Linked DNA regions of Homo sapiens. The protein of the gene in region 4 interacts with the protein of the main gene of each other region in a pairwise test. Each region holds a gene or a part of one and is shown on either strand. Other genes may lie near its edges. The genes, in order: EGFL8, AP1S1, SKIL and PECAM1.

Region 1 (7,338 bases), on a different chromosome or scaffold from region 4:
TGACCTCGTGATCCACCCGCCTCGGCCTCCCAAAGTGCTAGGATTATAGGCGTGAGCCCACGCACCCGGCCTTGCCTGGCCAATATTTTTTAATTAAAAGATTTTAACTCCATCTGGCTGGGTGCGGTGGCTCACGCCTATAATCCCAGCACTTTGGGAAGCCGAGGCGGGTGGATCACCTGAGGTCAGGAGTTCGAGAACAGCTGGCTAACATTGAGAAACCCCATCTCTACTAAAAATACAAAAATTAGTGGGCCTGGTGGCGCACGCCTGTAGTTCCAGCTACTCAGGAGGCTGAGGCAGGAGAACTTGAAACCAGGAGGCGGAGGTTGCAATGAGCCGACAGGGTGCCACTGCACTCCAGCCTGGGTGACAGAGCAAGGCTCTGTCTCAAAAAAAAAAGAAAAAAAGGATTTTAAGACCTTTCTATTTTGAAATAATTTCATACTTAAGAAAAGTTTGCGCCTGTAATCCTAGCACTTTGGGAGGCCGAGGCATGAGCCCAGGGGTTTGAGACCAGCCTGGGCAACATGGCAAAACCCTGTCTTTACCTAAAATACAAAAATTAGCTGGGCGTGGTGGTGTGCCCTTGTAGTCCCAGCTACTTGGGAGGCTGAGGTACGAGAATTGCTTGAGCCTAGGAGGCCAAGGCTGCAGTGAGCCGAGATCTCACCATTGCACTCCTGCCTGGGTGACAGAGTAAGACCCTGTCTCAAAAAAAAAAAAAAAAGTTACCAAAATAGCAAAAAGCAGTCATTTATACTCCTCACCTAGATTTCGCAAATGTTAACATTTTGTCATGTTTACATTAATATCTTTTTTCTCTAAATATATATACATTTATTTATATACGTTAATGTTATATTTAAATATAAACATAGATTCAAATTTTCCTGAATATGCGCTCACAGATTATTCAAATTTTTCCAACTGTCCTTACAGAAAAAAATATACAGTGGAAGATCCAAATCAGGATCTTGAGTTGCATGATCTTGTTACGTCTCTTTAGTATCTTTTTGTTTGTTTGTTTGTTTGAGTTGGAGTTTCACTCTTGTTGCCCAGGCTGGAGTGCAATGGCAAATCTCGGCCCACTGCAACCTCCGCCTGCCAGGTTCAAGTGATTCTCCTGTCTTAGCCTCCTGAGTAGCTGGGATTATAGGCGCCCACCACCATGCCCAACTAATTTTGTATTTTTAGTAGAGACGGGGTTTCTCCATGTTGGCCAGGCTGGTCTTGAACTCCTGACCTCAGGTGATCCACCCTCCTTGGTCTCCCAAAGTGCTGGGATTACAGGCATGAGCCACCACACCTGGCCTCTTTTTTTTTTTTTTTTGAGACAAAGTCTCACTCTGTCGCCAGGCTGGAGTGCAGTGGCGCCATCCCGGCTCACTGCAACCTTTGCGTCCCAGAATCAAGCAATTCTCCTGCCTCTGCCTCCTGAGTAGCTGGGATTACAGGCGCCCACCACGCCCAGCTAATTTTGTATTTTTAGTAGAGACAGGGTTTCTCCGTGTTGGCCAGGCTGGTCTCGAATTCCTGACCTCAGATGATCCACCCTCCTCGGCCTCCCAAAGTGCTGGGATTACAGGCTTGAGCCACCACGCCCAGCTAATTTTGTATTTTTAGTAGAGATGGGGTTTCACCACGTTGGCCAGGCTGGTCTTGAACTCCCGACCTCAGGTGATCCGCCGGCCTTGGCCTCCCAAAGTGCTGGGATTACAGGTGTGAGCCACCTCGCCCGGCCAGTAATGCATTTTTGATGGGGTTTCTACAGAAGTGAGGTCGTATCTTCAGTGTATCACCTCATGAAGTACATTATATCCAGTAAGGTAGTTTTGAGTGTCCTCCCTGCTACCTGTCTCCCCAGTAGGCCTTGGGTTCCTTTGGGACCTTAGCCCACCTTGATTTCTTCCTTTCTTTTTTCCTTTTCTTTTTTCTTTCCTTTTTCCTTTCCTTTCCTTTTTGAGATGGGGTCCCGCTCTGTCACCCAGGCTGAAGTGCAGTGGTGCGATCTCGACTCAATGCAACCTCCACCTCCCGGGTTCAAGTAATTATCCTGCCTCAGCCTCTTGGGTAGCTGGGCTTGCAGGCATCTGCCACCATGCCCAGCTAATTTTTGTATTTTTAGTAGAGATGGGGTTTCACCATTTTGGTCAGGCTGGTCTTGAACTCCTGGCCTCAGGTGATTTGCCCTCCTTGGCCTCCCAAAGTGCTGCAATTACAGGCGTGTGCCACTGCGCCCGGCCAGATTTTCTCCAGCTCTTCTGATAACCTCCCCCCAAATCTCTTTGTAGCTTCTTTGGTTTCTATGATGCAAATGAGACCGTCCTGGAGATGGAGGAGCAACTGGTGAGCCCCCTGGGATTACTTCCCCTTCTAGCCGCTGTCCCACCTTATTCCAGAGCCCTCTCTGTGACTCCTGAGCTGAAGGGTTCACCCTGTGGGGAGGAGGTCCAGGATCCCAGCAGTAACTCACTTTGTCTCTCCTTGTGTCTCTCTTCCATGCTTCCACGCCCCTTCGACCACCTTGAAGGTTTATCTGCGGGATTCTTTTGGGTTGAAGACTCTATTGGCCCGGGGGGCCATAGTGAGGTGTCCAATGGCCGGTATCTCCCACACAGCCTGGCACTCCAACCGTACCCTTTATGAGACCTGCATTGAACCTTGGCTCTCCTGAGGATATATTCAGGGGTCCCCAGGAACTCCTCGGTCCAGAGACCAAGTGGTGGCCTTGGAAAGCAGATGTCAGGCTTTGGTGTGCCTGTGACCACCTCATTGCTCCCATATTATCCCCCATTTTTAGTAGAGACGGGGTTTTAGTAGAGACTTGGCCTCCCAGAACCCCCTTCCTCTGCTCCTCCATGAATGACAATTCCAGGCCTCCCCTACCTCATGTCCTCTCATTTGGGGGATTGCTCCGTGCTGTCCCTTTCTCTCAAGGCCGAAGTTGGGAAGTGAGAAACCATGTTTTTAACTTGTGGCTGCTTTTGCTGCTGCTGCTCCTCCGTATCTGGCTGTATGGGTGGAGAACCCACCCCCTGCCCACCACAGGGGTCTCCTTCCAGGCCACTCAGGACATTTTTAGCTTCTCTCCTCCCCATGTTCCCTTTTTTCTCTAAAGTCCCCTGACATCAGCCCTCCCAACTCCTAAGAGGGACTACCCATGAGAGTGGGGTTCTGAGGCTCCCCTATGGGGACAGTTCCGTTCTTGAAGTGTCAGTGTTGGGGAATATCTGTGGCCTATGAGGCCCATCTCAGGTTTGGGGATCCCCCAGTCCCTATGATCAGTGTTGGAGTACCCCCCTGGGAGAGCCTAGTTTCTTTGAGGCCCCAGGCCCTCTTTTAACTACCTTTGAATAGGTGTTATCCCTGTATTTATGGAAATAAAGTTCCATTTCCTCAGTGTGACTTGGCTCATTTCCAGGTGGAGGGGACCTGGCTCCCCAAGGAGGGTGGGGGTGGAGCCTGAGGCCTGGGTGCCCAGATGCCTGGTCTAGGGTGGGGACCCCCTTGGTGTTTCCGCTCTCTCTCAATGCCCATTCTTTGTGGGTTCCTGGTTCTCTGCGGGTTCTTTCCTGCTGAAGACAATTCTCTTCCTCTCCCAGTCCCCAAGACTGGGGGGTTAAGCTCAGGGCTCCAGTGGTTTGGGCCTCAGCCTCATGGGTGGAATGCGCCTGCCACCCCCAGGCTAGACGAGGGGGCAGAGGGTCAGGGTGGGCATTCGTTGTGCCGCTTTTGAGCTTTGTGGGCCAGAGCTGGGTGTAGGGCTGGACAATGAGCCTCCTCTTCCTTGAAAGAAGGAATTTTGGCTGAGACAATAGGGCCCTGTCTGTTCTGGCATGGGGGGTGGTGGCTGACTCAATTCTGTTCCCCCTAAGCCCTAACAAATGTCATGAAGAGAGGGGGGCAGTTTTCCCCTTGGTGCCCTGGGCTGCCCCCCTGCCCCTTTGTGACGACTTGCCCTTCTAGCTTTCCTCAGCTGATCTTGCTTTTTCTCCCATAACCTGAACTGCTTTGTTCCCTGCAGCTGGTTCTCTCCCTGCCCCCTAACTCTCCCCTAGTCTGTTTTGGGTTCAAGGGGGTACTGGTGGTGTTACAGAGCTCATAGCTTCTGATCTGGGGAGTCCAGAAATAGGGGCCTCAGAGGGTTGGAAAGATACTTCTAGGGAGCCCTTTGCTGGGGTGGGGATGAGGGTAGTGGGACTTGACCCTACTGAGCTGACCCTGCTGGAGCTAAGGAGGAGGCTTGTGGGAGGGGGCAGGAATGGGAGGACTCTCTGGCCCAGCCCCTCCTCTCCTTCTTAGCCTGCCAGGCCCACCCACCAGTCTGAGCTGCTTCTGCTGAGGCTGGTCTGCTTGAAGCCTCCCAGGAGAAAGAAGCCAGGTGGGAATGGAGAGAGAGAGGAAGGCAAGTGGGGAGAGAATTTCAAATGGGGAAAGAGTGGGGTTTACTCAGAGCCTTAGGGTGGGCATGAGTTGCGGGGTGTTTTGTTGGAGCAAGGGATGTGCATTTAGGGCGTTATGTGACGGTGTGGGTATATGAGGGGAGTAGCAGTGTGTGAAAGGTGTGGAGTTTCCAGGTGCTTGGTTTGTGTGTACGGTGTGAAGGTATATAGCTAGGGGTTTTTTTTGTTTGTTTGTTTTGTTTGTTTTTTTGAGACGGAGTCTTGCTCTGTCGCCCAGGCTAGAGTGCAGTGGCATGATCTTGGTTCACTGCAACCTCTGCCTCCAGGGTTCAAGGGATTCTCCTGCCTCAGCTTCCCGAGTAGCTGGGATTACAGGCGTCCACCACTGCGCCTGGCTAATTTTTTGTATTTTTTAGTAGAGATGGGGTTTCACCATCTTGGCCAGGCTGGTCTCGAACTCCTGACCTCATGATCCACCCACCTCAGCCTCCCAAAGTGCTGGGATTACAGGTGTGAGCCACCGCGCCCAACCAGCTAGGGTTTTGAAGGTATGAAGTTATAAGAGGGCATGTTAAAGACAGGAGGGTTGGCCAGGCATGGTGGCTCACACCTGTAATCCCAGCACTTTGGGAGGCCAAGGCAGGCGGATCACCTGAAGTCGGGAGTTCGAGACCAGCCTGACCAACATGGAGAAACCCCGTCTCTACTAAAAATACAAAACAAAATTAGCCGGGCGTGGTGGCAGGCGCCTGTAGTCCCAGCTACTCGGGAGGCTGAGGCAGGAGAATGGCATGAACCCGGGAGGCGGAGCTTGCAGCAAGCCGAGATCGCACCACTGCACTCCAGCCAGGGTGACAGCGAGACTCCGTCTCAAAAAACAACAACAAAAAAAAAACCAAAAAAAAAAAACCCTAGCTATATACCCTCACACCCTACAAAACAAAACAAAACAAAATTAGCCAGGCGTGGTGGCGCATGCCTGTAATCCCAGCTATTTGGGAGGCTGAGGCAGGAGAATCACTTGAACCTGGGGGGCGGAGGTCGTGCGGTGAGGCAAGAACATGCCATTGCATTCCAGCCTGGGTAGTAAGAGCGAAACTCCTTCTCAAAAACAAAAACAAAAAAAAACCCAAAAAAAGACAGGAGGGTCATAAGGGGAGGGTTGACTGTGTGTCCCTCCAGGTTGTGCAGAGGGGATTAGAAGTAAGTAGGTTAGAGGGGAGGTGGAGGGAGTGTGCTGGGGTGTGAGCTTTTATGATGCTGAAAGGATCATGATATGCTAAGGACAGGATAGTGTTGGGTTGTACACACAGGTGTAGGCAATCCTGGTGGCTAGTATGTAAAAGTGAATGTCCTGACTCCCTTAGAGGGTACCTGCAGAGTGCCCTTGGAGGGACTAGTGCTGGAGAAATTAATAGGAGAGGGGACGGGCATCCATTAACCTTTTCTTGCCTGCAGCCTGTAGGGTCCAGCGTCAAAGCGAATCATGGGGTCCAGGGCTGAGCTGTGCACTCTCTTAGGCGGATTCTCCTTCCTCCTGCTACTGATACCAGGCGAGGGGGCCAAGGGTGGATCCCTCAGAGAGAGGTGACAACAGAGGGGGTAGGGCCCGGGGTGAGCTCTTCTCAGGAGCCTTCTGCTGGGGGTGGGGCTTCACAGGAGGCAAAACATAACTGTAAGTTTAGAATGGGGGTGAGAGGCTGTCATCTGGAGGGAGAGCGGGGGGCCTCAGTAGCCTCTTGAGGGAAGTGGGACTCCTGGCTCCCCAGGGCCTGGCCTACTCAATCTCTCCCACCTCATCCTCTGGCATGGACGCAGTCAGGGAGTCTGCTCCAAGCAGACACTGGTGGTCCCGCTCCACTACAACGAGTCCTACAGCCAACCAGTGTACAAGCCCTACCTGACCTTGTGCGCTGGGAGGCGCATCTGCAGCACTTACAGGTGAGGGATGGGGAGATGGGACCCCAAGAACCCCAACTAGGACCCGTACTCAGGGTCCTGAGCCGGGCGCTGTGTTCCAGGACCATGTACCGCGTTATGTGGCGGGAGGTGAGGCGGGAGGTTCAGCAGACCCATGCAGTGTGCTGCCAGGGCTGGAAGAAGCGGCACCCGGGGGCGCTCACCTGTGAAGGTGAGGCTGGGTCTTCCGGGCCTTGCGGGAGGCGCGCCCCACGGAGCTGGGGAGCTGGGTCGTCGGTTTGAGTCTGAACCCCACTTCCTCTGTCCTCAGCCATCTGCGCCAAGCCTTGCCTGAACGGAGGCGTCTGCGTTAGGCCTGACCAGTGCGAGTGCGCCCCCGGCTGGGGAGGGAAGCACTGTCATGTGGGTGAGTCAGCTTGTCCTCCCCACCTACCCAGGTGCTTGCCCCCGCCCCCTCTCTCAGCCCCTTCCTTTTTTCGGTAACTAGACGTGGATGAATGTAGGACCAGCATCACCCTCTGCTCGCACCATTGTTTTAATACGGCAGGCAGCTTCACCTGCGGCTGCCCCCATGACCTAGTGCTAGGCGTGGACGGGCGCACCTGCATGGAGGGGTCCCCAGAGCCCCCAACCAGTGCCAGCATACTCAGCGTGGCCGGTGAGTGGGCAGGAGTACGGGCCACCCGAGGGACTCGGGACGGGCGTCCGGGCTCGGGTAGTGGTCACACTCTTGGTCTCCTTTGTCCCTAGTTCGGGAGGCGGAAAAAGATGAGCGCGCTCTGAAGCAGGAGATTCACGAGCTGCGAGGGCGCCTGGAGCGGCTGGAGCAGGTGAGCCAAGCCTGCTGGGTGGGGCGAGGCCAGACGTCACTGTCAATACCCTGAGGCATCTCTTCCTTTCTAGTGGGCCGGTCAGGCTGGGGCCTGGGTCAGAGCGGTGCTGCCCGTGCCGCCTGAAGAGCTGCAGCCAGAACAGGTGGCTGAGCTGTGGGGCCGGGGTGACCGGATCGAAT
Region 2 (7,664 bases), on a different chromosome or scaffold from region 4:
CTTACACTGCCAAAGTATTTGTCTAAGAGCTCCACGTATCGGTGGATCAGCTCCAGTGTGATGAGCTCATTGTCTTGGCCCTCGATGGCGCAGCAGAAGTAGAGGCTGGCATATCTGCGGAGAGGAGCGCATGAGACATCGCTACAAGCTTGCTTCAGGACCCAGGCATTCTGGTCTCAAACCTCTCACCAGCCTGGAGGTGGTCTGTGCCCTGGCTGGCCACAGGTGAGGTGGCCCTAGGGCATGTAAAGAGTAACTCACCTGCCTCTTTGTGCTGTCTTAAAAACATGCAAAGAACGCATGCTTTTTCCTTCCTGCCCTCTGACCTCCTAAGTTTGACTCAGCAAAAACCTGAGCCAAGTAATTTACCTGCTCCGAGGAGAAGGAACCGGAAAGGGTGTGTGTGTGCGTGTGTGTTAGGAAAAGTAGGGCAGGACCTTTGACTGCAAGGGACATGCGCAGTGGGGCAAGACAGGGCCCAAAGGGACACGTGAGTGAGGCAGGTGTTGCACGTGAGCAAAACCAAGTGGTAAACAAGAACTTCTTTAAGAGTTTGGGGAGAAAAAAAAAAAAAAAAAAGGAAGCTGACATTCATTACTGTCCTCCAGATGTCCTCAGCTCCCAGGTCTCCCTGACCTACAGGACGACCATTTCTCAGACATTTTAACCCACTGCCCAACTTGAATCTAGGCAGGTCTGAAAGTAGGTGGGGAGTCACCTCTTATAGACAACTTTGAGGTCCCTCCACTCCAGGAAGCTGCACATCTTGGGCTTTCGAGCCAGGACAACCTGCATGAGCTCGCGCACCATCTTCTTCCGTTCCTTGTCCGAAGTGGCCAGGTACCATTTTTGCAGCCGCAGTTTTCCCTGCCGGCTGAATAATAGCATGAACCGCATCTGTGGGGGATGGGAGGGCAGAACCGAGGGTAACCACACATTCCCCAAACTTATCTCCAGCTAATTCTTCTCTACTTTCTTCCAACATCCAGCCCCTTGCTCTCAAGGCTGGGTGTTTCCACCAGCAGGGGGAAGTCAGAGCTTCTGAGTCTGTCAGCTGGGTTCAAATCCTGGCTCTACTAGTTATGCAAGGCCTTGGCCCAATTACTACTGTAAGTCTCTGGGCCTCAGTTTCCTTATGTGTAAAATGGACATTGTACCTGCCTTGCACAGTTGTTAGGTGAGACTAAATGATTTGATATATGCAAGTCCCTAGCACAGGCAGGCAGTATAACATGTTAGCTATTATTATTATTATTTTTGAGACAGAGTCTCTCTCTGTCGCCCAGGCTGGAGTGCAGTGGCGCAATCACTGTTCAGTGCAATCTCCGCCTCCCAAGTTCCAGCGATTCTCCTGCCTCAGCCTCCTGAGTAGCTGGGATTACAGTCACGTGCCATCACGCCCGGCTAATATTTGTATTTTTAGTAGAGATGTGGTTTCACCATGTTGGCCAGGCCCTGGTCTCGAACTCCCGACCTCAGGTGATCCACCCACCTAGGCCTCCCAAAGTGCTGGCATTAAGGCATGAGCCACTGCGCCCGGCCGTTAGTTATTACTATTATTACCATGATTCCCTGACCTCTTGCTTTCTGGTCTGCTTTCTAAAGGTAAGTAAAATGCCTAGCACAGTGACAAGACGACAGTAACCGACGCCAAAGAAATGCCTGTTCTCTTCCACCCTCTCTCTATCCATCACCATGCTGAAATCTGGTATTTTGTCCCTGGAGAAGCTACCTCAATTTTCCACCCCATCATAGCCATAAGATCTTAATGATCTCCCAAACATATCATCCTCCAGTGCCAGGCCTATGCCCAGGGGTATCCTCCTCTGTAGTATGTATCTCCAACACCACACAGGGTATGCAGATGCCCAAATCCTATCTTCCTCTCTGCAGGCACCCAGGCATTTGGTCTTCGACATTTCTCTTTAACTTTTCTTCCTTTTAGGGTGCCTCCTGCTAAGCGCCCACTCCTCCCCAGACACCAGGTGACCAATTTCCCTCAGTTAGGGCCCCGCCACCCAGGGGGTTCCCCTAAAAGAATGTCTGCAGAACAGACAGCAAGCTGGGTCAAGTGGGATGGAAGACAGAACCCTCACTGCCCAGTGTACCCCAGCTTCCCAGTTCCGGGGGGTCTGGGCCACATCCTGGAGTCTTCTCCTTACCCCAGTAGCTCTTCTATTCATGGACATGCCCAGGCTTGGAATCCCTGGGTGTGTGGCACTGTACTAGCTTAGTAAGTGAAAAATCAGAATTCAGGAGAACTGATTTTTTTGGTGGAGGGGAAAAGAGGGGCGCTGGGGAGCCTCGTGCGGCGCTCAAATAGGGGGGTGGGGAGCAAGCAGGAAGACGGAAGGCCTGGATTCCGGAAAGAGAATGGGAAGGGGGGCAGAGAGCCCCGGAGCCCGGGATCCCAAAGCCTGGGTCCCTCGGAGAAAAACCACGAGTCCACTTCGCTTCCCTACCTGGGCCCAGCCTCTAGGCAAGCACGGCCACGAACGCAGTAGGGCGCTCCCTTTTCCGACCCGGAAACTCCCCTCCCACACCCCTCTCCCCACCCGGGTCCCCGCTCCCGCCTGTGCAGCCCGGGAAGGGGGTCTCGGTGACTGGTGACCCCCGCTCCCTCCCTCAGCAAAGAGACTCCCGCAACCCTCTGCTTCGGGCGGCTTCCCTGCAGCGGGGATCGAGGGACCCCAGGGGCCAAGACCAGAGCGCCCCTCCCGGCTCGGGACGGCCCCGCCGCCCCTTCGTCAGCCCCCGCTCGCCCTGCAAATGCGCCCCCTCCCCGCCCCTCTCCCGAATGCCACCTCCCCCTCTTCCTCCCGAGCCCGGCTCGCCCACCCGCCGAGGCAAGGGAGGCCTCTGAGGACCAGAGGGAAGACAGGGCGGTTCACCCCGAGGGCGGCCCCCGAGGACCCCCGCAGGTGCAGCCCACGCCCCTCGCTTCCCCCTCCCCTCCCTCTTCGCACAGCCTACCATCCTGCAGCCTCCGGCTCGGCGCGTCCCACTTCGGCCACCGTAGGCGCCAGTCCCACTCCCTTTCTTATCCTTTCTCCTGCTGCCCTCCCTCTCGCCCGAAGCCCCGCCCCGTCCCGCCCAGGCTCTGACTCCCGGCGCGCCACGCACTGCGCAGGCGCCGACGCCGCGGGGAGCGCGGGCGGGGCTGGAGGCGGAGAAGCGGAAACCATGGCAACCAGGTCCTTGACTGCAGCTTCTAGGAGCCCGGTCGTCATGGTAACGCGGCTGTCCTGTGGGCTGGTTGGAGGATGGGGGAGGAGGACAATAAGGTCCTCGCGCTTTGGAGCCTTGTGGGGCAAAAAGGCGGGAAAAGGGGTGAGAGGTGAATGGGACGATCATTGGAGTTCGAAGCAGCAGGCAGGACTCCTGGAAGGGGAGTGGGCCGTGAAAAGGGAGCAGGGTGGGAATTAAGTGTAGGGGAGGAGGAGTGACCTGGAAAACAGAAAGACAAAGGGTCATGAGAAAAGTATAGAACCCAAGCTGAATATCTATTGAAAGCGTGATAGATACACCCCTCTAGTTTTTTTCTTTTTAGAGACAGGGTCTGGCCGCGTCACCCAGGTTGGAGTGCAGTGGTGGGATCGTGACTCTCTGCAGCCTTGAACTCCTGGCCTCAAGCGATCCTCCCGCCTCAGCCTCCTGAGTAGCTGGGACTACAGACGCACACCGTCATGCCCAGCTAATTTTTAATTTTTTTTTAGTAGAGACGGGGGTCTTACTATGTTGCCCAGGCTGGTCTCGAACTCTTGGGTTCAAGAGACCCTCCCGCCTCGGTTTCCCAAACTGCTGGGATTACAGGCGTGAGCCACCGCGCCTGGCTTCTGATTTTACAGTAAGAGAAATGTGTAGAAAAAGAATAAAAGAGAAAAGGAGAGGCTGCTATAAAAGGCATGTAAGGAGAAGGGGGAGGAACGTGAACTGAGGCAAAAGGGGAAGAAATAAAGAGCGTCTTAAAAGGTTAACTTGGGTCAAAACTCAAAAAGGGACAGATGTCACCCAAATCTCAGTGTGAAGATGAGGTGGATGTACGTTGTAATATGGGCTTTTAAACTGAATGTGTGTGTGTGTCTACATGTTACTGGAAAAAGGGGTCCCGATCCAGACCCCAAGAGAGAATTCTTGGATCTCATGCAGGAAGGAACCCAAAGCAAGTCGTAGAGTGCGATGAGAAGAGAGAGTTTATTGAAAGCTACACCCTTACGGAGTAGGGCGTCCTCAGAAAGCAAACAGAGGAACACACTGTCTTAAGTTTTTCTTTTCTTTCTTTCTTTTTTTTTTTCTTCTTTTTTTGAGACAGGGTCTTACTCTGTTGCCCAGGCTGGAGTGTAGTAGCATGATCATAGTTCACTGCAGCCTCCACCTCCTGAGCTCAAGCGATCCTCCCACTTCAGTCTCCCAAGTAGCTAGGACTACAGGCATGCACCACCACAGCCAGCTAATAGTTGTATGTTTTGTAGACACAGGGTATTGTCATGCTACCCAAGCTGGTCTGGGACTCCTGGACTCAAGGTATCCACACTCCTCAGCCTCCCAAAGTGTTGGGATTACAGGTATGAGCCACCGCCCCTGACCTTTAAGTTTTTCTTATATAGGGGTCTTGTTTTTGTAGAGACTAAACTAAGCCGAGTCAATGTGCAGATGGGCCAATGGCATGACAAAATTTATTATTCTGTTAATTTAACTATCCTTGACATTCTAGTAGGTAAGTACATCAAAGCAAAACTTAATTATCTTTCTTCCTTTTTTTTTTTTCTTGAGACAGAGTCTTGATCTGTTGCCCAGGCTGTAGTGCAGTGGCGTGATCTCAGCTCACTGCAACCTCCACCTCCTGGGTTCAAGCCATTCTTGTGTCTCAGCATCCCTAATAGCTGGATTACAGCTACATCCTTTCACCTCAGCCTCCCAAGTAGCTGTGACTGCAGGCATGAACCAGTGCATCCAATTAATTAAAAAAATATTTTGTTGTAGAGATGGGGTCTCACTACTGGGATTGTAGGCATGTGCTACGACACCCAGCTAATTTTTGTATCTTTAGTAGAGAGGGGGTTTTGCAATGTTGGCCAGGCTGATCTCGAACTCCTGGCCTAAAGCAATCCTGCCTTAGCCTCCACACCCAGCCAGAACTATAATTATCTTAAAGGCACATATTGTTATGGGTATTGGGGCATCTGGATTTTCTGTAGTTGGAGGAGTCTGTCCTTGCAGGTATCTTTAAGCTGTTTCCCCAACTGTAAACAGCTTTGGGTTGTGACTGACAAGGAATGTGCCTTGTTAGTTTCAAGATGGAGCTGAACTTAAAATGGCTTTATGCTGGCTCTCTGAGGCTCCTGCTTCCCTAGCACAAATGATAAAGTAAAGAGGTCTGGATAGAAGGATAAGAGAAAATCTTAAATTTTGTCATGCAGAAAAGTTAATGGTAGATAATTGTTGGCAACTAATGTGCTATTATTTTTGAGTAGCACATGATGCAATTGTTGGTAAGGCCTCACCTCCTGTCTCCACTTTATTTATTTATTTTGTGTATTTATTTTTTTGAGATGGAGTCTTGCTCTGTTGCCCAGGCTGGAGTGCAGTGGCACAATCTCGGCTCACTGCAACCTCCACCTCCCGGGTTCAAGTGATTCTCCTGATTCAGCCTCCTGACTCAGCCTTCTGTCTCAAAAAAAAAAAAAAAAAAAGAGGACAGTAGTACATATCTTGCAAGGTGGTTCTGAGGATTAGAGGTAATGTATAGCAAGTATCTGTAAACACTTCATAATGGTACCTATCATTTCCTCTTCCCAGACTCTTCCTTTTTTTTTTTTTTTTTTGTTGTTGTTGTTGTTGTTGAGACGGAGTCTCGTTCTTGTTGCCCACGCTGGAGTGCAGTGGCACGATCTCGGCTCACTGCAGCCTCCACCTCCCCGGATCAAGCAATTCTCCTTCCTCAGCCTCCCAAGTAGCTGGGACTACAGATATCTACCACCACACCCCGCTAAGTTTTATTTTTTTAGTAGAGATGGGGTTTCACCACGTTGGCCACGCTGGTCTCAAACTCCTGACCTCGAGTGATCTGCCTGCCTTGGCCTCTCAAAAGTTCTGGGATTACAGGTGTGAGCCACCGCGCCCGGGCCCAACTTCTTTCTTCTTTTACTTTTTCTTCTTCCTTTTGCTTTTGTTTTCTTTTCTCCTCTGCCTCCACCTTAGGCTTTTCAACACCATCGTCTAAGATATATGACATATACTAGTGGAATATCTTACCAGTGGCATAGATTATTGGCTGCCTGAACTATTGTGGTGCTACTTATTTATTTATTTATTTATTTTTTTTTTTTGAGACAGACTCTTGCACTGTCGCTCAGGCTGGACTGCAATGGTGTGATCTCGGCTCACTGCAACCTCCACCTCCTGGGCTCAAGTGATTTTCCTGCCTCGGCCTCCTAAGTAGCTGGGATTATAGGTGCATGCCACCACGCCCAGCTAATTTTTGTATTTTCAGTAGAGACGGGGTTTCACTATGTTGGCCAGGCTGGTCTCGAACTCCTGACCTCGTGATCCACCCGCCTCGGCCTCCCAAAATGCTGGGATTACAGGTGTGAGCCACCAAGCCCGGCAGCTATTTATTAGGTCAAGAATAAGATGGCACAGACAGTTAGCTGGCTGGACTATCCTGGTTGTGGGGAAAAGCAAGACAGATCAGATTGTTACTGTGTCTGTGTAGAAAGAAGTAGACATAGGAGACTCCATTTTGTTCTGTACTAAGACAAATTCTTCTGCCTTGAGTTTCTGTTAATCTATGACCTTACCCCCAACCCCGTGCTCTCTGAAACATGTGCTGTGTCAAACTCAGGGTTAAATAGATTAAGGGCGGTGCAAGATGTGCTTTGTTAAACAGATGCTTGAAGGCAGCATGCTCCTTAAGAGTCATCACCACTCCCTAATCTCAAGTACCCAGGGACACAAACACTGCGGAAGGCCGCAGGGACCTCTGCCTAGGAAAGCCAGGTATTGTCCAAGGTTTCTCCCCATGGGATAGTCTGAAATATGGCCTCGTGGGAAGGGAAAGACCTGACTGTCCCCCAGCCCGACACCCGTAAAGGGTCTGTGCTGAGGAGGATTAGTATAAGAGGAAGGCATGCCTCTTGCAGTTGAGACAAGAGGAAGGCATCTGTCTCCTGCCCGTCCCTGGGCAATGGAATGTCTTGGTATAAAACCCGATTGTACGTTCCATCTACTGAGATAGGGAAAAACCGTCTTAGGGCTGGAGGTGGGACATGCGGGCAGCAATACTGCTTTGTAAAGCATTGAGACGTTTATGTGTATGCATATCTAAAAGCACAGCACTTGATTCTTTACCCTGTCTATGATGCAAAGACCTTTGTTCACGTGTTTGTCTGCTGACCCTCTCCCCACTATTGTCTTGTGACCCTGCCACATCCCCCTCTCGGAGAAACACCCATGAATGATCAATAAATACTAAGGGAACTCAGAGGCTGGCGGGATCCTCCATATGCTGAACGCTGGTTCCCTGGGTCCCCTTATTTCTTTCTCTATACTTTGTCTCTGTGTCTTTTTCTTTTCCAAATCTCTCGTTCCACCTAACGAGAAACACCCACAGGTGTGGGGGGCAACCCACCCCTTCACCTGGTATCATTTGTAGGTCAAGAATA
Region 3 (7,022 bases), on a different chromosome or scaffold from region 4:
ACACCTGTAATCCCAGCACTTTGGGAGGCTGAGGCAGGCAGATCACTTGAGGTCAGGAGTTCGAGACCAGCCTGGCCAACACTGTGAAACCCCATCTATACTAAAACTAAAAAAATTAGGAGGGCGTGGTGGTGTGAGCCTGTAGTCCCCGCTACTCGGGAGGCTGAGGCAGGAGAATCGCTTGAACCCGTGAGGCGGAGGTTGCAATGAGACGAGATCGCGCCACTGCACTCCAGCCTGGGTAACAGAGCAAGACTCTGCCACCAAAAAAAATAAATAAATAATTAAATTCCCATGTCCTAGAATAGTGCATGGCATATAGTTGTTGAATGAAGAAATGAATGAACAAACGAACAAATAAATACCAACTCACCTGGGGTGTAAAAATGAATGTGTCTGAGAAACATGGTCACCTTCCTGCTTTATAACAGGATACCATGACTGTAATTCCATTCCTGATGGTGCATCTGTCTGCAGAAAAACATGGAAGGGAAACATTTATTGAAGTAAAACTGTGAAGGTTAATTTTATGTGTCAACCTGACTGGGCCACTGGGTAAAGACAACTAACATTATTTAAGAGTCATCATGCCACGCACAGTGGTTCACACCTGTATTCCCAGCACTTTGGGAGGCAGAGTGGGGAAGATTCCTTAAGCCGTGGAGTCAGCCTGGGCAACATAGGAAGACCCAGTCTCTTTAAAAAAAAAAAAAAAAAAATTAGCCAGTTGCAGTGGTGTACATCTGTGGTCCCAGCTACTTGGGAGACTGAGGTGGGAGAATCCCTTGAGCCCAGGAAGTTGAGGCTTGCAGTGAACCATGATTGAACCATGATTGCACCACTGCACTCTATCCTGGGCAAGAGTGAGACCCTGTCTCAAGAGTCATCTTCCAATAAGGCAGTCTTCCCTTGAAGAAGCCTGATTATCACCTGAAACTCAGAGACACCCACATGAACTATCCCATCACAAGAACAGTTTCAGTATGCATGCTAACATGGAGTACCAGAAATGACTGCATCAAATTTCATACTTACGAAATCTATTTTATTTATTTATTTTTTTTTTTTTTTTGAGATGGAGTCTCGCTCTGTCACCCAGGCTGGAGTGCAGTGGCGCGATCTTGGCTCACTGCAACCTCCACCTCCCGGGTTCAAGCGATTCTCTGCTTCAGTATCCTGAGTAGCTGGGATTACAGGCACCCACCACCACACCCAGCTAATTTTTTGTATTCTTAGTAGAGATTGGGTTTTGCCATGTTGGCCAGGCTGATCTCAAACTCCTGACCTCAGGTGATCCCTGCTCCTCAGCCTCCCAAAGTGCAGGGATTACAGGCATGAGCCACTGAGCCTGGCCAGAAATCCATTTTAAATAATAGAACTCTATAAAGGTATAGCACTGGAAAATTGATTCTTATTCCTGTACTACAATCGGCTAGACTATACCCTATCCCTACAGTATTTGTTAGCATATTAGCTAGATACCATTCTACAGCAATACTTTGCCAAATTAAATCCAAAACCACATAGTTTGCTAACACTTGTCATTAAACTATATTTCCTAATAAATATAAAAAGGATTTTTTAATACTTAAAGATGAGCTATAACTAAAAATAAAGAAAAATAAGGAGAAAGGTAACTGGTAACTTAATGAACATCTACGGGCTGAGAACTTTATACATCATTCTTAATTCTAACAAATATCCCCCATTAAATAGGTATCATTACCATTTTACAGATGAGAAAACAACTGACGTTCAGAAATTGAAGAGGGGCTCGGTTCAGTGGCTCACACCTGTAATTCCAGCACTGTGGGAGGCCGAGGTGGGTGGATCACCTGAGGTCAGGAGTTCGAGACCAGCATGGCCAACGTGGCAAAACCCCATCTCTATTAAAAACGCAAAACTTAACGAGGCATGGTGGTGCGCTCCTGTAATCCCAGCTACTCGGGAGGCTGAGACAGGAGAATCACTTGAACCCAGGAGATGGAGGGTGCAGTGAGCCAAGATCATGCCACTGCACTCCAGCCTGGGCAACAGAGCAAGAATCGTCTCAAAAAACAAAACAAAACAAAAAAAGAAATTGAAGAGAAAAAAAGAATAAATGATCTGTGGTTACTAACTTCTCCCTTATTTTGGTTTACTTTATTTACACTTTGTCCTCCCTTCATCCCCTACATATTTCCTATTATACGAAATTACCTTGCTTTTGTGGGAAAAGGATACTTAAAAGGGGGGGCAAGACTCACTGGTAAGGGAAAGGGGAAAGAAGGAAAGGAGAGCTGAAATGTGGCATGGTTAAGGTGACCAACAAAAATAGGAAGTTAACAGACAAACCCAGGAAACTGAGGGAGAATGCGATTAGGAACGAGTTAAACAAGGGAAAAAACAAAAAAGAGAGCTGGATATTTCTCTAAACCCTACCTTTAAGAGGTTCCATGGCCAGGCGCAGTGGCTCATGCCTGTAATCCTAGCATTTTGGGAGGCCGAGAAGGGTGGATCACCTGAGGTCAGGAGCAAGACCAGCCTGGCCAACATAGCGAAACCCAGTCTCTACTAAAAATACAAAAATTAGCTGGGCGTGGTGGTACGAGAAGGGTGGATCACCTGAGGTCAGGAGCAAGACCAGCCTGGCCAACACAGCGAAACCCAGTCTCTACTAAAAATACAAAAATTAGCTGGGCATGGTGGTACGCACTTGTAATCCCAGCTACTCGGGAGGCTGAGGCAGGAGACTCACTTGAACCCAGGAGGCGGAGGCTGCAGTAAGCCGAGATTGCACCACCGCACTCCAGCCTGGGCAACTGAGCCAGAATCCATCTCAAGATAAAAAAAATAAATAAATAAATAAATAAATAAATAAATAAAAGAAGCTCCAATTCTGGTCGGGTGCAGCAGCTCATGCCTGTAACTTTGGGAGGCTGAGGGAGGTGGATCACCTGAAGTCAGGAGTTTGAGACCAGCCTGGCCAACATGGAGAAACGCCGTTTCTACAAAAATTAGCTGGACATGGTGGTGAGTGCCTGTAATCCCACCTACTTGGGTGGCCGAGGCAGGAGAATCACTTGAATCCGGGAGGCAGAGGTTGCAGTGAGCTGAGTTCGCGCCACTGCACTCCAACCTGGGTGACAGAGCAAGACTTTGTCTCCAAAAAAAAAAAAAAAGAGAGAGAGAGAGAGTCCAATTCCCAATTCAACAAATTAGGAAAGTAGCAAAGCTGTTTTGCCTGATGTCCCAATATTCCAGTTTGGAACCAAGAAACTAAGGACTGCAAACAGATCTCTGGATGTTAAGCAGTAGTGATTAAAACAAAATCAACTCTAAACTATCCAAACTCTGGTTTGATTACTGAGATCCTACTAATGGAGGAAATCAATGAGAATGAAGAAACCTGGGAGAGATCTGACAAGTAACCCACTGCCCTCAACAAAACAGGCTGAAAACAGAAAGGAAACCGCTCTTAGAATATGTATCTTAAAATCTGATCAGTCAGGAGATGACTTAGGGCCAACTAAAGGACAAAAATAGGCAGGGCACAGTGGCTCACGCCTGTAATCCCAGCACTTTGGGAGGCCAAGGCAGGCAAATCACGAGGTCAGGAGTTCAAGGCCAGCCTGGCCAATATAGTGAAACCCTGTCTTACTAAAAATACAAAAATTAGCCAGGTGTGGTGGTACGCACCTGTAATCCTAGCTACTCAGGAGGCTGAGGCAGGAGAATCGCTTGAACCTGGGAGGTGGAGATTGCAGTGAGCCGAGACGGCGCCATTGCACTCCAGCCTGGGTGACAGAGCAAGACTCTGTCTCAAAAATAAAAAAAGAAAAAAATATGTATGTGGGAGATCTTTATTTTTGTTAAGAATTAGGCCAGGCACAGTGGCTCACACCTGTAATCCCAGCACTTTGGGAGGCCAAGGCGGGTGGATCACGAGATCAGGAGTTCAAGACCAGCCTGGCCAAGATGGTGAAACCCCGTCTCTACTAAAAATACAAAAAAAAAAAATTAGTCGGGTGCGGCAGCAGGCGCCTGTAATCCCAGCTACTCAGGAGGCTGAGGCAGGAGAATCGCTTGAACTCAGAGGGCGGAGGTTGCAGTGAGCCGAGATCGTGCCACTGCACTCCAGCCTGGGTGACAGAGTGAGACTCTGTCTCAAAAAAAAAAAAAAAAAAAAAAAAGAATTATTGAGCAATGAATTTGAAATACTAATAAGACCTCAAAATTATAAGAAAAAAATTAATATTTTTAAAAGATTTAAGAGTTGAATATTCAGTGAAGGTCTCTACATGATATGTAAATGTGGAATTAAAAAAAAAAAAAAAGGCCTGGGCACAGTGGCTCATGCCTATAATCCCAGCACTTTAGGAGGACAGGAGAATCAACCGAAACAGGGGAACAGAGGTTGCAGTGAGCTGAGATCGCTCCACTGCACTCCAGCCTGGGCAACAAAGTGCAACTCCATCTCAAAAAAAAAAAGGAAAACAGAAAACGAAACATCACATTTTGAACTAATATTCAGAATCTGGGCAAATTCCACTGCTTATTTATAAAACAAACTGATCACTTATTTACATAGTTCCTCAGCCTATAGCTTAGTTATAGCAGTAAGAAAGGGAACTGACTTCTGGCAACAGAAATACTAAATGATAGATGCTAAGTGACAGCTGACAGCCTAAGGAGAGAGGAAAATTACAAGATGCAAACACAAAAACTGCTTCAAAAAGCAAGACAATCTGAGTAAAGGCTTTAGCATAGACCGGGGCAAATAATTTAATATATCTCAATTGTCCCCTACCCCAATTCAACAAAGTATGGTAATTAATGTTTAAGAATCTTGAGTTGGCCAGGCGCAACGGCTCACATCTGTGATATTACCTAGCACTTTGGGAGGCCAAAGTGGGCAGACTGCTTCAGCTCAGGAGTTTGAGACTGGCCTGGGCAACAAGGCAAAACCCCATCTCTAATAATAATACAAAAATTAGCCAGGCAAGGTGATGTGTGCCTGTAGTCCCAGCTACTTGGGAGGCTAAGGCAGGAGGATCACTTGAGCCCAGGAAACAGAGGTTGCAGTGAGCTGAGATTGCTCCATGGCACTCCAGCCTGGGTGACAGAGCCAGACCCTGTCTCGTTAAAAAAATAAAAACTCTTGAGTCAACGTGACATAGCTAAATTATGTTCTGTATACCACTTAGATTCAAAACTTTTTCAGACATTTTACAATTCATGAAAACAGTTTTTTAAAAAAACACAATGCTTTTAAAAAGTAGCTTAACGGGTAGAACATTTTGCACCCCAGCTCTACATGACCAAAGAGGTGTCAATGAACGAGGATAAGTTCATTCTAACAAATCAGTAAAATTTAAGATCAGTTTGAGGGCAGGAACAGTGGCTCACACCTGTAATCCCAGCACTCTGGGAGGCCGAGGTGGGTGGATCATTTGAGGTCCGGAGTTCGAAACCAGCCTGACCAAATGGTGAAACCCCATCTCTAATAAGAAAAAAAAAATTAGCTGGGCATGGTGGTGCATCCCTGTAATCCCAGCTACTCGGGAGGCTGAGGCAGGAGAATCACTTGAACCCAGGAGGTGGAGGTTGCAGTGAGCTGAGATTGCGCCACTGCGCTCCAGCCTGGGCAAGACAGTGAAACTCCGTCTCAAAAAAAAAAAAAAAAAAAAAAAGGAAAATCAGCTTGAATTAAATGAGAATTTCTTTTCTAGACATCATTTGTTAAAAAACAAAGAAAGCTCCTCTTTAAATAAGTGTTATATCTGAAAGAATTCTAGATGTACTGCCCAAGAAATCAATTGTTTCCAGATTTTTTAAATTAAAACTACTAAAATTGGCCCTACCCAGTGGCTCACACCTATAGCCCCGGAATTTTAGGAGGCCAAGGCACAAGGACTGCTTGAGTCCAGCAGTTCGAAACCAGCCTGGACAACATAGAGAGACCCCCATCTCTACAAAAAAAATTGTTTTTAATTGGCCAGCCGTGGTGACGCATGCCTGTAGTCTCAGCTACTCAGGGGACTGAGGTGGGAGAATCAGTTGAAGCTGGCAGGTTTGAGGTTGCTGTGAGCTATGATCCTGCCACTGCACTGCAGCCTAGGCAACAGTGTGGGGCTTGTCTCGAAAAAAGAAAAAGAAAAAAATATAAAATTACTAAAATTGATTTATATATTTCAAAGTTTTTCCTATAATGAATACTGGAATCTCAAATCTTCAGAATATCAAGCAAATTCTAAATTTGCTCAAAGACCTTGACTTGAAATCTGACTCAATTTTGATCAAGTTCATTTCAAAACCCTACAGTTTGATTTATAAGAGTAAGTTTTATCTTTACTCATGAGCCAAACCTAGCATCTATTTATTTCTGTGTCTCTAAACTTCAGGTGCCACCTTAAATAACTGCTAGCACATTCCTTTATTTTTAAACAGTCATCCCTCTTAGCTCCTATTCTTTATTTTATTTCCTAGTCTTGACCAACCCAGTAAGAGTCAGACTAGAGCTTCTAAGGAATCTTAAAGATCACCTAGCATAGTCCCCTAGCCAATGTCTGAATTCCCTATTTAAAATCCCTGTTAAGTGGCTACGCAGCCTCTGCTTAAACAGCAGCTTGAGGTCAAGAACCAGCCTTACCTTTGTATTTTTAATACCTAGCACTATATGCCTAGCATGTAGTAGGGACTCATCTATCAAATATCTATTATTTGTTGAATGAATTCTGAATGACAGTGCAGCTCATTAATTCCCAAGGTAGCCTTTTACAAGGTTATTCTGCTACCACAAAACTCTTGGTCTCTTTCACGTTTGATATCCCTCTACTCCATGAAGCACCAAGGAAGCCCAACAGTTTCTAAGGCTGCATTTTTCAGAGATATAAATTAAACAATACAAATGATGGGGACACGCACAACACTAACCATGATAAAATGTTGCAAGCTAATTTTACCTAATATGCTGTGGTAAGCCATAAACACATTTATAACAAATTATCCTAACTGTATGTTAAAAACAATTAAGAAAAGCA
Region 4 (7,022 bases):
CCCCTGACTTCTCCCGGCTTGGCAAATGAGACCGGGTCCTGGGAGTGGCTGACTACCTGTCCTAGAGCCCTGTATGTCCTGGACACTCCCCAGCTTCCCTCTGCTGTTGCCTCCTTCTCTCCTGGGAGCATTTCCCAGGCCACCTCATTTGTTTGCTGTTTGTCCAACGCAAATCTACGTTGAACAACAGGAGGCCAAGGCTGAGGACCTGGCCCCTCTTTCCTCCCGATCCCCTCCAAACCCAACTTCCTGGTGTCTGACCCTCGATGGCTTAAAGCAGTGGCTTCCAAACTACAGATCACATAATGCATCAGTGTAGTGTGTCATGGCCAGTGTTTAAAGACTGAAATAGGCTGGGCACGGTGGCTCACGCCTGTAATCCTAGCACTTTAGGAGGCCGAGGTGAGTAGATCATCTGAGGTTAGGAGTTTGAGACCAGCCTGGCCAACATGGTAAAACCCTGTCTATACTAAAAATACAAATTTAGCCAGGCATGGTGGCATGCCCCTGTAATCCCAGCTACCCAGGAGGCTGAGGCAGGAGAATCGCTTGAACCTGGGAGGCGGAGGTTGCAGTGAGCTGAAATCATGCCACTGCACTCCAGCTCAGGCAACAGAGCAAGACCCTGTCTCAAAAACACACACAAGGTTGGGGTGGTGGCTCACGCCTGTAATCCCAGCACTATGGGAGGCCAAGGCGGGTGGATCGCCTGACATCAGGAGTTTGAGACCAGCCTGGCCAACATGACGAAACCCCATCTCTACTAAAGATACAAAAATTAGTCAGGTGTGGTGCTGCATGCCTGTAATCCCAGCTACTCCAGAGGCTGAGGCATAAGAATTGCTTGAACCCGGGAGGCAGAGGCTGCACTGAGCCAAGATTGCACCACTGCACTCCAGCTTGGGCGACAGAGCGAGACTCTGTCTCAAAAAAAAAACCCCAAAAACCAAGCCAAACAAACAAAAAGCATCATATATATTAAGAGTAAAGTGTTGTTGGTGAAACTCTTGTCTGAAAAATTGTATGCAATTTAACTGTATAACAGTCAAAAAAGCTTGAAAAATACTGGCTTAAAATGATTAAGAACAGGTCTTAAGTCCTGAGAACAGCAGCCCCTTCCCAGTTCTGGGTTCTTTCTCCCCATACCAAACCAGAAACCACAAAGAACGATGAGGAAGGGAGCAGGATGCTGACCCGTCACGGTGACCAGTTCACTCTTGGTAGATTCTGAGGTCTGCATATGGATCCCAGAAATGATCCTAGCTTGACATCGGAAGGATAAAACGCGGTCCTGTTCCTCAACGGGGAATTCCAGTATCACAAAATTCTGGTCTCGAGAATTCTTCTCTCTTTTCAGCTTGACCATTTTTTCATTTAGTTCAAGTTTTTCAATTGTGAAGTGTATTGGGGCCTTTTCCTCTGGGACAGAACAGTTGACCCTCACGATCCCACCTTGGATGGCCTCTTTCTTGTCCAGTGTCACCCTGGGACTGGGCACTCCTACGGGGAAAGAGAAAGTCTGTCAGTATCAGCCTGATTGAAGAGAAAGTCTGTCAGTATCAGCCTGATTGAGAGACACAAGCCTCCCTCCGCTGAGTGACTGTAGTTGACCCATGAGAGGGCTCTTTTTTGTTCTCTGAACACCCAGTGCGACCTACCAGGTAATAAATGAACAGGTATGTGCCCAGCACAGTACTAGGCACTTTGAAATATATAAAATCTGGAGGCTGAGGTGGGTGGATCTCTTGAGCCCAGGAGTTGGAGACCAGCCTGGGCAACACGGTGAAATGCTATCTCTACAAAAAAAAAAATTAAAAATTAGCCAGGGGTAGTTAGTGGTGTGCACTGGTAGTCCCAGCTACTTGGGAGGCCGAGGTGGGAGAATCACCTGAGCCGAGGAGGTTGAGGCGGCAGTGAGCAGTGATCCCACCACTGCACTCCAGCCTGGGCAACAGAGACCCTGTCTCAAAAAAGAGAAGAAAAGAAAGGAAAAAATATAAAATATGCTCAATGGGAGCTAAGCTATGAGGAAACAAAGGCATAAGAATGATACAGTGGACTTTGGGGACTCAGGGGAAAGAGTGGGAGGGAGCGAGGGATAAAAGACTACACACTGGGTACAGTGTACACTGCTCGGGTGATGGGTCCACCAAAATCACCACTAAGGCCACGCGAGGTGGCTCACATCTGTAATCTCAACACTTTGGGAGGCTGAGGCAGGTGGATCACCTGAGGTCAGGAGTTTGAGACCAGCCTGGCCAACATGGCGAAACCCCATCTCTATTAAAAATACAAAAAATTAGCCGGGCATGGTGGCAGGCACCTGTAATCCCAGCTACTTGGGAGGCTGAGGCAGGAGAATTGCTTGAACCCCGAAGGCAGAGGTTGCAGTGAGCTGAGATCGTGCCACTGCCCTCCAGCCTGGGCAACAGAGTGAGACTCTGTCTAAAAATAAATAAATAAATAAATAAATAAATAAATAAATTTAAAAAATAAAATATGGTCAAGATGTACTTGGTGTTTTCAATGGTTTATAATCCTATTGGGAAGAGGACACAATCAGATTCCCAACAGATGATGCTTAGAGGGGAAAGGTAGCCAGTATTTGTCAGTGTCACTGTGATTGTTGTTACCCTTTATTGAATGCAGCCACAGGCTAGGACTGACTTTAATTTATTCCATGAACATTGACTGAATGCCTACTATGAGCCACATTCATTGTTCAAGATATAAGAATAAACCAAACACCATCTCTGTCTTTACAATTTCACTATCCAGAAGAGCAGACAGATGTGTAAGAATGGATGGCAATACTGAGTGAAATAGAATATTTGTGGACCGGGCATGGTGGCTCACACCTGTAATCCTGACACTCTGGGAGGCCAAGGTGGGTAAATCACTTGAAGTTAGGAGTTCGAGACCAGGCTGGCCAACATGGTAAAACCCCATCCTTACTAAAAATACAAAAAATTAGCCAGGCACAGTGGCGCGTGCCTGTAATCCCAGTTGCTTGGGAGGCTGAGACAGGAGAATCGCTTGAACCCAGGAGACAGAGGTTGCAGTGAGCCAAGGTCGCGCCATTGCTCTTTAGCCTGGGTGACAGAGGAAGACTCTGTCTCAAAATAAATAAATACATTTCTATTTATTAGGAACTCACTAGGTGCTGGAAATTTTGCTAAGCACTCTACCCACATGACACTTTTAACCCTCTCAATAATTGCCTGAAATGGGTATCGTTGTTATCTTCCTTTTACTGGTGAGGATTTTGAAGTTTAGAGCTGTTAAGGGACTTGCCCAGATTGAAACCCAGGCAGAGTGACTGCAGAACGAGGTGTCTTAACACACCGCTGTGGCCTTTATACACACAAATACCATTGAATGTAGAGAGAGCATCAGAGCTGTACTGACTGGCACCCTGGGGTAGACCCATTTTGTTTTGGAAAGAGAAGACATCATTGAGTTGAGTCTTGAAGAAGAAATTTTAATTTATGAGACGAGATGAAGAAGCATTTTGGGAGGCCAAGGCAGGTGGATCACTTGAGGTCAGGAGTTCGAGACCAGCCTGACCAACACAGTGAAACCCCATCTCTACTAAAAATACAAAATTAGCCAGGTGTGGTGGCACACACCTGTAATCCCAATTACTTGGGAGGCTGAGGCAGGAGAATCGCTTGAACCTGGGAGGCAGAGGTTGCAGTGAGCCGAGATCACACCACTGCACTCCAGACTGGGTGACAGAGTGAGACTCCATCAAAGAAAGAAAGGAAGGAAGGAAGGAAGGAAGGGCCTGGCCTATTGGGAATATGTCTAGTGCTTACGTATTCAGGTAAGGAAAATGCCAGGCAGATGAATGAGAGGGTGATGGGTGGAGAGTTAAGTCCAGTGTCACTATTCATTCACAGCTGTTATTCACGCCACTGTGTGCTATGCTCCATCTGCTTGCCTGTGCTCAGTTCCAAGGACTCACCTTCCACCAACACCTGGTACTCTGCAGTGGTTTTCTCTTTGTTGTTCACAATCACAGTACATTTATATGTCCCTGAGTCATAGATCCGGACTTCAGGAATAAAATAACTCTCTGTGCTCTTCATGGAGGAGATGTTGTAAAACAGCACGTCATCCTTATAGAACAGCATCTGGTGCTGAGGCTTGACGTGAGAGGTGGTGCTGACATCCGCGAAGCACTGCAGGGTCAGGTTCTTCCCATTTTGCACCGTCCAGTCCGGCAGGCTCTTCATGTCAACACTGTTGATTGTGAAAGCTAAATGCAAAGGGAAGGAAGGCAGACATACCTGTTATCTCAGAAACAACATCATCCCGGTGACCTTCACCACATCAGATGTGGTCTTATCCCATCCTATGCAGTATTGAGTCCAGGGGTTCTACGTGCCTACAGGGCCAGGCTGATAGTAACTGTGCACAGTGGCTCAAGCAGGAGGCAGTTGGTACTAAGCTGCAACTTTTCCCACCAAGGCAAAGGAACAGAGTGTGATAAAGATGTAGAGCTAGGTATGGTGGCTCACGCCTATAATCCCAGCACTTTGGGAGACCAAGGTGGGTGGATCACCTGAGGTCAGCAGTTAGAGACTGGCCTGGCCAACATGGTGAAACCCCCTCTCTACTAAAAATACAAAAATTAGCCAGGTTTGGTGGTGCAGGCCTGTAATCCCAGCTACTTGAGAGGCTGAGGCACAAGAATCACTTGAACCTGGGAGGCGGGGGTTGCAGTGAGGTGAGATCTCACCACTGCACTCCAGCCTGGGCGACAGAGTGAGACTGTCTCAAAAGACAAAAAAAAAAAAAGATATAGGCATTCTGTGAGCTGCCACATCTTGGCCCCTGGAGGGAGTACAGGATTCAAGCAGTCAAGTGTTCAAGTCCTGGCTCATCATTTACTGTGTGACCCTGGGCAGCTAGACTCTCTGAGCTCAGTTTCCTTACCTGTAGGATGGAGTAATCATATCTCATTAGGTCTTTGCAGGAAATGTACAGGAGAACAGCCAGAACGTCTCCTGTACAGTGCCCGATATACATTAAGTGCTTAATAAATGACTGCTACCTCCATTCCGAAACCAGATGGTCGTGCCCAGGCCCTCCTTCTCCACCCAGGCCTTACCGAATTAGCACAGTCCCAGCTGGCATTTTCTATCTGATGGGCTCTGAGGTTTCACCAGATGGTGAGGACTTGAAACCAGTTTTTAGCCTGCTACTTGCGTTTTCAGCCTCACCTGCTACCAAGAAGCAAAGACTACAGATTCCCCTCTGCCAACGGCAGGAATCTCTGGTCAAGCCTCAAAACAGCCACAATGCTCAATCAGCTATCCAATCTCTGCTAGGAACTAGGCTGTGGGTCAACTGGCCAATTGTGTCATTTCTGGCAAGTCCCCAGAACAGAATTGGCTTATATCCAGTAACCATAGGCTGTCAATAGAATTCAGCTAACTACAGATCACATATTGAGGCTCATTCACAGTAGCAGGCTGACGGAAGGGTGGATTGCTTAAAATTGGGTGCTCTCTAGCTATTGCTGTGTTTTTGTCAGTTGGTTGGTTGTGGGCAACTGCCCTGAAAATTTTCCAGGCTAGAAGATCCTGAACCATGCCCATGGGTCAGGACTTGTATCCAAACTTCAGAGCAGACCAGGGTGAACTGCTTTTTGGAGATCCTCTTGGCAATGCCTGTAGGTGCTTCTGCAGCCCACTTGTGGTCTTAGTTTTACCCCTTGACATATCTCAAAGCACTCACTAGCTTCCCTGTGGTTGTCTTTTCCAAGCACATGAATCTGGGTTTAATCAGCACCATAAAATATTCACTCTCCAAATTCCTGTCAGAAAACAACTTCAAACATCTCATGTTCTATACATGGCTAAAAAAAATATGGATGAAGCTAGGTGCAGTGGCTCACACCTGTAATCCCAGAATTTTGGGAGGCCGAGGCAGGAGGATCGCTTGAGCCCAGAAGTTCGAGACCAGCCTGGGCAACATGGCAAAACCCTGACTCTACAAAAATACAAAAGAATCAGCTGGGCATGATGGCATGTGTCTGTAGTCCCAGCTACTCAGGAGGCTGAGGTGGGAGGATCACCTGAGCCTGGGAGGTCGAGGCTGAAGTGAGCCATGATCATGCCAGTGCACTCCAGCCTAGGTGACAGAGTGAGATCCTGTCTCAAAAAAAAAAAAAAGAAAGAAAAGAGGCCAGGCGCAGTGGCTCACGGCTGTAATCCCAGCACTTTGAGAGGCCAAGGTGGGTGAATCACCTGAGGTCAGGAGTTTAAGACCAGCCTGACCAACATGGTGAAACCCTGTCTCTACTAAAAATACAAAATTAGCCGGGTGTGGTACATGCCTGTAATCCCAGCTACTTAGTAGGCTGAGGCAGGAGAATCGCTTGAGCCCGGGATGCAGAGGTTGCAGTGAGCTGAGATCGCGCCATTGCACTCCAGCCTGGGCAACAAGAGCGAAACTCCATCTAAAAAAAATTAAATAAGTATAAAAAAGAGAAAAAGTAATTGATCTGTAGGGGATTTGGAAAAAAATGTACTGAAAGTCCATGACCATAAAACCAGGTGTTTTTCCCAAATCCCTACACGTCCCCCCAGAAATTTCTACCATGCCCATTCTCAAGGAAGCTACCTATCCAGCATTTGGACCTGGGATTGAAAGTGACTATGTCTGGTATGCTTTCTTAGCCCCCCATCTATCTCCATGAAGTATGAATAATGCAATCATGGAATTTTTTAAAATTTTTGAGTGAATGGAGCAGTCCAATGTTTAAAACTCTCAAAGACAGATGACATGATATGTAAAAACCTCAAAGAGTCTGCAGACAAATTATTAGAAATAAATGTGAGTTTAGAAAGGTGGCTGGATAAGGCCAGGAATGGCAGCTCACACCTGTAATCCCAGCACTGTGGGAGGCCAGGAGTTCGAGATCAGCCTGGCTAACATGGTGAAACCCCGTCTCTACCAAAAATACAAAAATTAGCCAGGCATTGTGGCATGCACCTGTAATCCCAGCTACT

The links.
Region 1: the proteins of PECAM1 (region 4) and EGFL8 interact in binary tests that used the Homo sapiens proteins (3 or more experiments, as listed by UniProt).
Region 2: the proteins of PECAM1 (region 4) and AP1S1 interact in binary tests that used the Homo sapiens proteins (3 or more experiments, as listed by UniProt).
Region 3: the proteins of PECAM1 (region 4) and SKIL interact in binary tests that used the Homo sapiens proteins (3 or more experiments, as listed by UniProt).

The regions. Positions count from the first base shown.
Region 1 is NC_000006.12:32,160,274-32,167,611, forward strand, and holds the start of EGFL8 (epidermal growth factor-like protein 8 precursor), read left to right. Parts: upstream 1-4,321; 5' UTR 4,322-4,384; exon of another isoform or gene 4,385-4,408; intron 4,409-5,864; 5' UTR 5,865-5,892; coding exon 5,893-5,993; exon of another isoform or gene 5,994-6,224; coding exon 6,225-6,347; intron 6,348-6,427; coding exon 6,428-6,537; intron 6,538-6,636; coding exon 6,637-6,732; intron 6,733-6,813; coding exon 6,814-6,984; intron 6,985-7,076; coding exon 7,077-7,156; intron 7,157-7,229; coding exon 7,230-7,338. Other genes in the region: lysosomal thioesterase PPT2 isoform b precursor, read left to right, coding at 2,295-2,349, 2,534-2,677.
Region 2 is NC_000007.14:101,149,827-101,157,490, reverse strand, and holds the start of AP1S1 (AP-1 complex subunit sigma-1A), read right to left. Parts: upstream 3,016-7,664; 5' UTR 2,977-3,015; coding exon 2,974-2,976; intron 898-2,973; coding exon 719-897; intron 115-718; coding exon 6-114; intron 1-5. UniProt on the Homo sapiens protein: Subunit of clathrin-associated adaptor protein complex 1 that plays a role in protein sorting in the late-Golgi/trans-Golgi network (TGN) and/or endosomes.
Region 3 is NC_000003.12:170,374,693-170,381,714, reverse strand, and holds part of SKIL (ski-like protein), read right to left. Parts: intron 472-7,022; coding exon 374-471; intron 1-373. UniProt on the Homo sapiens protein: May have regulatory role in cell division or differentiation in response to extracellular signals.
Region 4 is NC_000017.11:64,373,857-64,380,878, forward strand, and holds part of PECAM1 (platelet endothelial cell adhesion molecule precursor), read right to left. Parts: intron 4,262-7,022; coding exon 3,968-4,261; intron 1,501-3,967; coding exon 1,195-1,500; intron 1-1,194. UniProt on the Homo sapiens protein: Cell adhesion molecule which is required for leukocyte transendothelial migration (TEM) under most inflammatory conditions.